2 linked regions of the Homo sapiens genome follow. The protein of the gene in region 1 interacts with the protein of each later gene in a pairwise test. Each region holds a gene or a part of one and is shown in the gene's direction. Other genes may lie near its edges.

The links.
Region 2: the proteins of SCARF1 (region 1) and SLC7A14 interact in binary tests that used the Homo sapiens proteins (3 or more experiments, as listed by UniProt).

What each region holds. Positions count from the first base shown.
Region 1 is NC_000017.11:1,642,933-1,646,903, reverse strand, and holds the start of SCARF1 (scavenger receptor class F member 1 isoform 1 precursor), read left to right. Parts: upstream 1-1,171; 5' UTR 1,172-1,206; coding exon 1,207-1,307; exon of another isoform or gene 1,308-1,344; intron 1,345-1,664; coding exon 1,665-1,726; intron 1,727-1,968; coding exon 1,969-2,070; intron 2,071-2,936; coding exon 2,937-3,462; intron 3,463-3,971. Other genes in the region: RILP (rab-interacting lysosomal protein), read left to right, coding at 285-462. UniProt on the Homo sapiens protein: Mediates the binding and degradation of acetylated low density lipoprotein (Ac-LDL). Mediates heterophilic interactions, suggesting a function as adhesion protein. Plays a role in the regulation of neurite-like outgrowth.
Region 2 is NC_000003.12:170,481,576-170,485,075, reverse strand, and holds part of SLC7A14 (solute carrier family 7 member 14), read left to right. Parts: intron 1-1,553; coding exon 1,554-1,762; intron 1,763-3,500. UniProt on the Homo sapiens protein: Imports 4-aminobutanoate (GABA) into lysosomes. May act as a GABA sensor that regulates mTORC2-dependent INS signaling and gluconeogenesis. The transport mechanism and substrate selectivity remain to be elucidated.

The sequences.
Region 1 (3,971 bases):
ATGTTGGGGAAAGGGGAAAGGCAAGAGTGTGGGGAGGGAGGAAGGGCCCTGGCTGGTCCTTCTCAGGATCCCCTTTCCCGCTTCTCTGCCCGTCACCCTGCTGTGCTTGGCTCTAAGCACACCGTCCCCTCCTGCTTCTCTGGCCCTGGCCCCCATCACCTTCACACTCCCTCAGGCTGCCCTTTCTTCCCCCTCTCCCCTTTTCTCACCATCCCCTGCCCTCACCCATATCCTTGACCTCTCTGGCTTCCTGGCTCAAAGTGCCTCTGGCTGTCTCTCTCCAGCTTTGGCCTATGGTATCGGGGTAAAGCTGAATCCTCTGAGGATGAGACCAGCAGCCCTGCACCCAGCAAGCTAGGGGGAGAAGAGGAGGCCCAACCACAGTCTCCAGCTCCTGATCCGCCCTGTTCTGCCCTCCACGAACACCTTTGTCTGGGGGCCTCAGCCGCCCCAGAGGCCTGACTTAGGGGTCTGGCTGTGGAAGGATGTGTGGCCTCAAATGAGGACAGGGCTCCCGCCTTCACAGCCCTCGCCAGGGGTCTGCCCCAATCCTGGCCTGCATCAGGGCAGGACGGGGTCTCAGCCCGCCTCCCTCTCTACGTCTCTGTACCGAGCCTCTGGGGCCAGATATAAGAGTGCCTCTCTGAGTCTCAGTTTCCCCATCCATGAAATGAGAGCTGACTGCCTAGCTCCCAGGGCTTTGTGCAGACGGCCTGAGCTCATGTAATAAAGAACTGCCCGTAATACACAGAAACTGTTCCTCGCCTGTCTGTCCATGTCTGTGCCACCTCCCAACCCTGCCAGGAGCAGAGGCAGGCTGAGGGGTCCTCGCTGGTCTCCTTGCTCAGTCACTGGGTGGGGTGGCTTCTTGCAGCTCAGGCCTTGCTTTGGGAGTGTGGCCTGATGGAAAGCCGTGGCTCCCAGCCTCAGTCCACCCCCTTCCCTGGCCCCGGCACCCAGGGACCTGCAACTTCATTCTTCTGGCCCTTCCAGGCCCAGGCCAGTCAGCCCTGCCATTGCCTTTCTTTCCCTTTCTTTTTTTGAGTGTCAGTCTTTCCAGCCACCCCCTCCCTCTCAGGGAGGTGCCTCGTGGCAGCCCGCCCCTCCGGCCTGGTTTCCTCAGGAAAAGCCCTGAGAGGAAGCAGGGAGGGGGTTGGGAGCTGTGGGGGCCAGACGAACCCGAGCGCTCCCACCGAGCTGCCTGCCATGGGGCTGGGGCTGCTGCTCCCGCTGCTGCTGCTCTGGACTCGGGGGACTCAGGGGTCCGAGCTGGACCCCAAAGGGCAGCACGTCTGTGTGGCCAGCAGGTGGGTCTCGTGGGAGTCTGATGCGTGTGGCCAGCAGGTGGGTCTCGTGGGAGTCTGATGCGGGTGGCTGAACCGGTGTTGAGGCCGTTAGGGGAAGGAGGAGACTAGGAAGGGGGCTTAGGCTGAAAGGAAGGGACTGCTGATGGCGGTCTGGCAGGTAGTGGCCAGCCAGGGCAGATGGTGGAAGGGTCAGGGAAGGAGAGGGGAGGGGCTGGGGACCCTAGCTGTAAAGATCCATTAGGCCTCCCCAGGGGGCTAAGGCAGCCTCCCCCACTGCAGCCAGAGACAGTGATCCACCTTCCTCAGGGCCAGGCTGCACCCCCCACCATGTCCGGCTGACCCCTTTTTGCCCCACAGCCCCTCTGCTGAGCTGCAGTGCTGCGCAGGCTGGAGGCAGAAGGATCAAGAATGCACCATCCGTGAGTAGCCAGGACAGACCCTCAGCCAAGGAGAAGGGAGGCCGTAGCCCAGTGACAACCCTTCCTTCCTACCCCATGGGGCCTGCCCCTCCTGATACCAGGAGTCAGGGTTTCTCCTGTGACGCACCCCCAGGCCTGAAGGGGCACCTCTTGAGGAGGCATGGCCCCTGGAGCCAGTGAGAGGGCAGGGGTGTCCCCTGGTCCTGCTCCCGTCTTTCCAACCTGGGTGGGGTGTCTTTCAGCCATCTGTGAGGGGCCGGACGCCTGCCAGAAAGACGAGGTGTGTGTGAAGCCGGGCCTCTGTCGATGCAAGCCTGGATTCTTTGGGGCCCACTGCAGCTCCCGTGAGTCTCAAGGGCCAGATGAAGTTGCTGGGCAGAGCTGGGTACGGGGGCAGTGGTGTGGGAGCAGGCGAGGCAGGTAGCCATGCAGCCTCAGGACAGCAGGGCCAGAATCCCCCCCAGCTTCACTGAGGAATTGCGGTCCAGAGACAGGAAGTGACACACACTCCCGGGAGATGACCTGAGTCACCGGGTTTTTACCCACATCCACAAAGCACTGCCCACCTGAGCATCTTCCTCTTCCACTTCTCAGAAAACCTGTGATTCCCCTTCATTGTAAAATGAGTGTATTACTTGCCTTTCCCACATATACCTTATACATGGGCAGTGGATGGAAGGGGGCCCCTGGCTGGGCTCTCTGCCCTCTCTGGCAGAAAGAGAGGGAAGGGAAAGGGGTTGGGAAGCAGGAGAGCCAGAGGGTGGGCATCAGGAATCAAGGAATCACTAGGGGAAAGGTGGCTTCTCCCGACACCCTGGCGGGCAGTATCCAGGCCTGAGATCAGGAGAAAGCCAGCTCTCCTCCAGCCCAGCAGAGATCCATCTCGGCAGGGAGGAGCAGGCATGGAGGAAGGCCCACCAACCTCGGTGCCACGCTCTGGGCAAGTCCCCTGCCCACTCAGGATCTCTGAGTGTGTTCTGGAATGTGAAGTGGCAGGCTGAGCCTCCCACTAATGGCTAAGGGTTTTCTGTAGGTCAGAGCGGAGCAGGAAGTGAGTGTTGCCCAGGACAGGCTGCCGGATGTTCTGAGGGTCTGTCCCCGGCTCTTGGAGGATGGGCCCAGCGCCCCTTTTCCTTGAGGAAGGGGACGCAGGGTAAGGGTCTGCGCGCGGCCCTGAGCCCGCTGACCCCTCCCGTCCCCACCCCCGCAGGCTGCCCGGGCCAGTACTGGGGCCCCGACTGCCGTGAGAGCTGCCCCTGCCACCCGCACGGCCAGTGCGAGCCAGCCACGGGCGCGTGCCAGTGCCAGGCCGACCGCTGGGGAGCCCGCTGCGAGTTCCCGTGCGCCTGCGGCCCCCACGGGCGCTGCGACCCCGCGACCGGCGTGTGCCACTGCGAACCCGGCTGGTGGTCGTCCACGTGCCGCCGCCCGTGCCAGTGCAACACCGCGGCGGCGCGCTGCGAGCAGGCCACGGGCGCCTGCGTGTGCAAGCCGGGCTGGTGGGGGCGCCGCTGCAGCTTCCGCTGCAACTGCCACGGCTCCCCGTGCGAGCAGGACTCCGGCCGCTGCGCCTGCCGGCCGGGCTGGTGGGGTCCCGAATGCCAGCAGCAGTGCGAGTGTGTGCGGGGCCGCTGCAGCGCCGCCTCCGGCGAGTGCACCTGCCCGCCCGGCTTCCGCGGAGCGCGCTGCGAGCTGCCCTGCCCGGCAGGCAGCCACGGGGTGCAGTGCGCACACAGGTGAGCGGGCGGGGCGGGGACAGGTGGGCTGGCGGGGCGGGGGCGGACACAAGTGAGCAGGCGGGGCGGGGCGGAGACAGGGGGGCGGGGCGGAGACAGGGGGCGGGGCGAAGACAGGTGGGCGGGGCGGACACCGGTGGGCGGGGCGGACACCGGTGGGCGGGGCGGGCACCGGTGGGCGGGGCGGACACCGGTGGGCGGGGAGGGGGCGGGGTGGAAACTGGTGAGCGGGCAGGGTGGGGGCGGGGCGGGCACAGGTGAGCGGTCGGGGGAGGGGGCGGAGGCGGACACAGGTGAGCGAGGCTGCGCGGAGACCTGTGAGCGGGCGGGGCGGAGCGGAGACAGGTGGCCGCGGCGGGGCGCCGGGAGGAGGGGTCAGGGCTTCGCGGTGCTCCTCTCAAAAAACATACAAAGCAGAGGAACGAGAAAGGGGAAAAGTCGGATAGGTGGGGTGGCTCACACCTGTAATCCCAGCACTTTGGGAGGCTGAGGCGGGTGCATCACCTGAG
Region 2 (3,500 bases), on another chromosome or scaffold:
AGGACACTCTGCATTTCCCCTTCTACTCCTCCTTCATTCCCGCCCTTCCTCCAGGAGTGGGCCCTTATCACACACAATAAAGTCAATCATCACAGTGCCCTCCTTAGAATAGCACTTTATAGACCACAGAGTACTTCTATGATCCACCAACTTTTTACCCATCCTGATCTAACTCAGGAGACTCCCTGAAGCTGGAGGAGGCTCAATCCCACTCTCCTCCAGCCCACCCTGCCCCATCCCCAGAGGAAATATTGCAAGTGGTTATGTTACTAGGAAACATTCTCTTTCATACTGCACAGGCCTTAAACACGCCCTAGGAGCTGTTTGGTCTTGTACTGGTCAGCAGGCAGCCCCTCCCCCACCATGAGAAGAACAAGGTTGCTGGGCTTTGCTAGGACATCCTGTCCTCCTTGGTGGCCCTTGGCTCCACTGGAGGATCTTGGCTCCAGAGGAATAGGCAAAGAAATGGTCTACATGTGACCACCCTCTTTCCTTCAGGCTTTGAATCCCTTCTTGATGTCAATTTGGCCTTCATAGGCCTGGGGGGCCCCCCATATCTGGCCATATGACTGGTGGCTCCATTGCCTATGGCCAATTCTGAAGGCAGGGATGTTAGGCAGATCAATAATATGCGAGGGGAGTAGGTCCTGGGAGCCCCCAGTTAAGTGCTTATCACCTCCCCGATGCACATGCATGCCAGTGGCTTTGTCCTGTCCATACCCTGATTTCTCCCCGTAGGCAGAGTGTTGAAGGAGGGGTGGTAGGGTAGAGGGAATAGCAAAGACATTCTGCTCTCTATTTCCTCTTCTGCTCCTCCCTCGCATCTCCCTCTTCTCTGGGGGTGGACCCTTATAGCACACACAGTAAATGATTCCTGATTAAGCAAAGCCATAGTTGTCTGACAGCCATATAATCAGTAGGACTTGATTCTGTCCTGATGCCATCATTTGTCTGTTGGCCTGCCTGGATCCTAGGACTAAGCTAGAGAAAGGAAATAGAAATATGAGTCCTTATCTGGGTCCCAACAGTTAATAGGCTATAGACCTCTTAAGCACTTATCTTTGGAGATTTTATCTCTGGTGTTTCACAGTGAGAGGGAGTACGGATAAAACCCTGTAGGACCAGAAAGCAGAAGAGAAATGAGAGTCTTGTCCACGTGGGCAGGGTGCTCATGGTCCCTGCCAGGCCCTGGTTGCAGGGCATTGGCTGCAGCTCCTTCCTTCCAGAAATATCTGCTCTCCACTGAACTGTTAGCATAGCTCTGCTCATGGGGCTGAAATACCTGCAGACTTACTCCTCAGATATCAAAGGACCAGAGAGATAGAGAGTTTCTGGCCCAGTCCACTAAATTCACATGTGGGGAAATAATATTGAGCAAGGCCTAGAGGCCAGATGACTGGTCTACAGTAAAGGCACATGCCAGCAAGTGAATGGATCCAAACTGCCATGCAAGCCTCTGCCTCCAGGGGCAGGGCTCTTTCCTCTCCCGTGGGGCCTCTATCCATGCTGTTCTTCCCCTGTACCTCCAGCCCTGTCTTCTCTTGTTTTAACAGGTGAGCGTGATCTTAACTCTGATGGTGCCATATTATACCATTGACACGGAATCCCCACTCATGGAGATGTTTGTGGCTCATGGGTTCTATGCTGCCAAATTCGTAGTGGCCATTGGGTCGGTTGCAGGACTGACAGTCAGCTTGCTGGGGTCCCTCTTCCCGATGCCGAGGGTCATTTATGCCATGGCTGGTGACGGGCTCCTTTTCAGGTAAGGGCTATGCTCCATGAAATTTATCCTGCTCTGCCACGTCTGTCCAGGGAGAATGTCTACCCACTGTCAGACTGACTGTGATTTTGACATCAGTGCCTTTCACATGGACTGTGGACCTTGTTATGTATCCTGAAGAAAAGTCTGAGTAACAGAGCTCAGGCCCTGAAGCAGCCCCTAGTTTAACTCTGCAGTCCCTTAATCCAGCACAAGCTGATGTGTGTCCCCCCACTGTCCTCCCTCCTGTCGACATTGCGTGCTCCTTTGTGAAGATGATGGGGCCAAACTGCTGTACTGGGTGGCCTCCAGAAGGAAGAACCATCCTAGGGACATCTTAGGCCTGCCCTCACATTGAGGCCTGGTAACTGCCCCACTCTCCACAGCCCCTCTGAAAATGAAAAAAAAAAAAAGTCAACAAAGAGTAGATAAGACCCTCTGAACAGATCCTAACAATACCTGCAACACCAGCTGCCATTTATTGAACATTTGTGTGTCCTGGGTGCTGTGTATACAGTATCCCATTTAGTCCTCACAGTAACTCTATTTTGCATATGAAGTCTACTAGGACTCAGAGAGGTGAAACAAAATTGCCACAAATCCCTCAGCTACTGAGTGGCAGGTCAGGATTTGATCCCAGAACATCCGACTCCAAAAATCAGACTTTTAACCACACCAATATATTGGCAGTTCTTGCCCCCTACATTGGCCATGAAGTGGCCCATCTGCCCATGGTACAAAGGGGATGTGGCCCCAGCCCTTTGTTTCCAGCATGAGGGGCCTGCTGAGAAGGCATTCTTCAAGTGCACAAAGCAAGGAGTAAACCGTGGAGGCCAAGGAGCTCTCAGGTGTGCAGAGGGGGCCGGTTCAGGGACTTTGTCTCTGCAGACATCATCTTCTGACTCATTTCCCCTGCATACTCTCTGAAGCCATCACCAGATCAGAGCTGCTGTGATTAGGTTGCCGAACAGATCAAGAGGGGCCTAGGGTGATGGAGGCGTGGGAACTTCACACATCCAAAAGATTTTTCTGCTGTCAAAGAAACTAACAGGAAAGATACTGGGGCTTCAAACACATTTACAGTCTTGTGTGAACCATAAAAATAAGGGACCAGGAGGAGAGGGGAGAGGAGAGGGAGCCTATTGCACATGCCATTCAGTCGCTCTTCTTGGTCTCTTCTTCAGTCAGTAACTAGCTGGACATAAATCTGTATCTACGAGCACAGTTTCTCAATTACTGTGCTATTTTGCCAACTAAACCCATGAACTTTTGTTATAGGTGGTGTCTCAAGCTTTGGCATAAATCAGAATCCTCTGGAGGTCTTTTAAAGCAGTTTGCTAGGCCTCACCCTACTATGATTCTGGTATAGTAGTTATTGGGTGAAACCTGAGAATATACATTTCTAACAAGCTCCAAGAGAATGCTAAGATGCTAGTTCACAGGTCAGGAGGACCCCCAAGCAGGTCCATGACTTCCTCCAACCATCACTTTTTCACGCAGAGCCTGGGCTTCAATCTAGGTTTCTGAAAGACAGACCTCCTAGGTTCAATCAACCCTTCCCATTACATAATGATTAGGAACTTTACTAAAGAACTTTGCCTTAAAATCAAAGAACTAGTCTAGGCACAGTGGCTCACACCTATAATCCCAACACTCTGGGAGGCTGAGGTGGGTGAATCATGAGGTCAGGAGTTCGAGACCAGCCTGGTCAACATGGTGAAACTCTGTCTCTACTAAAAAT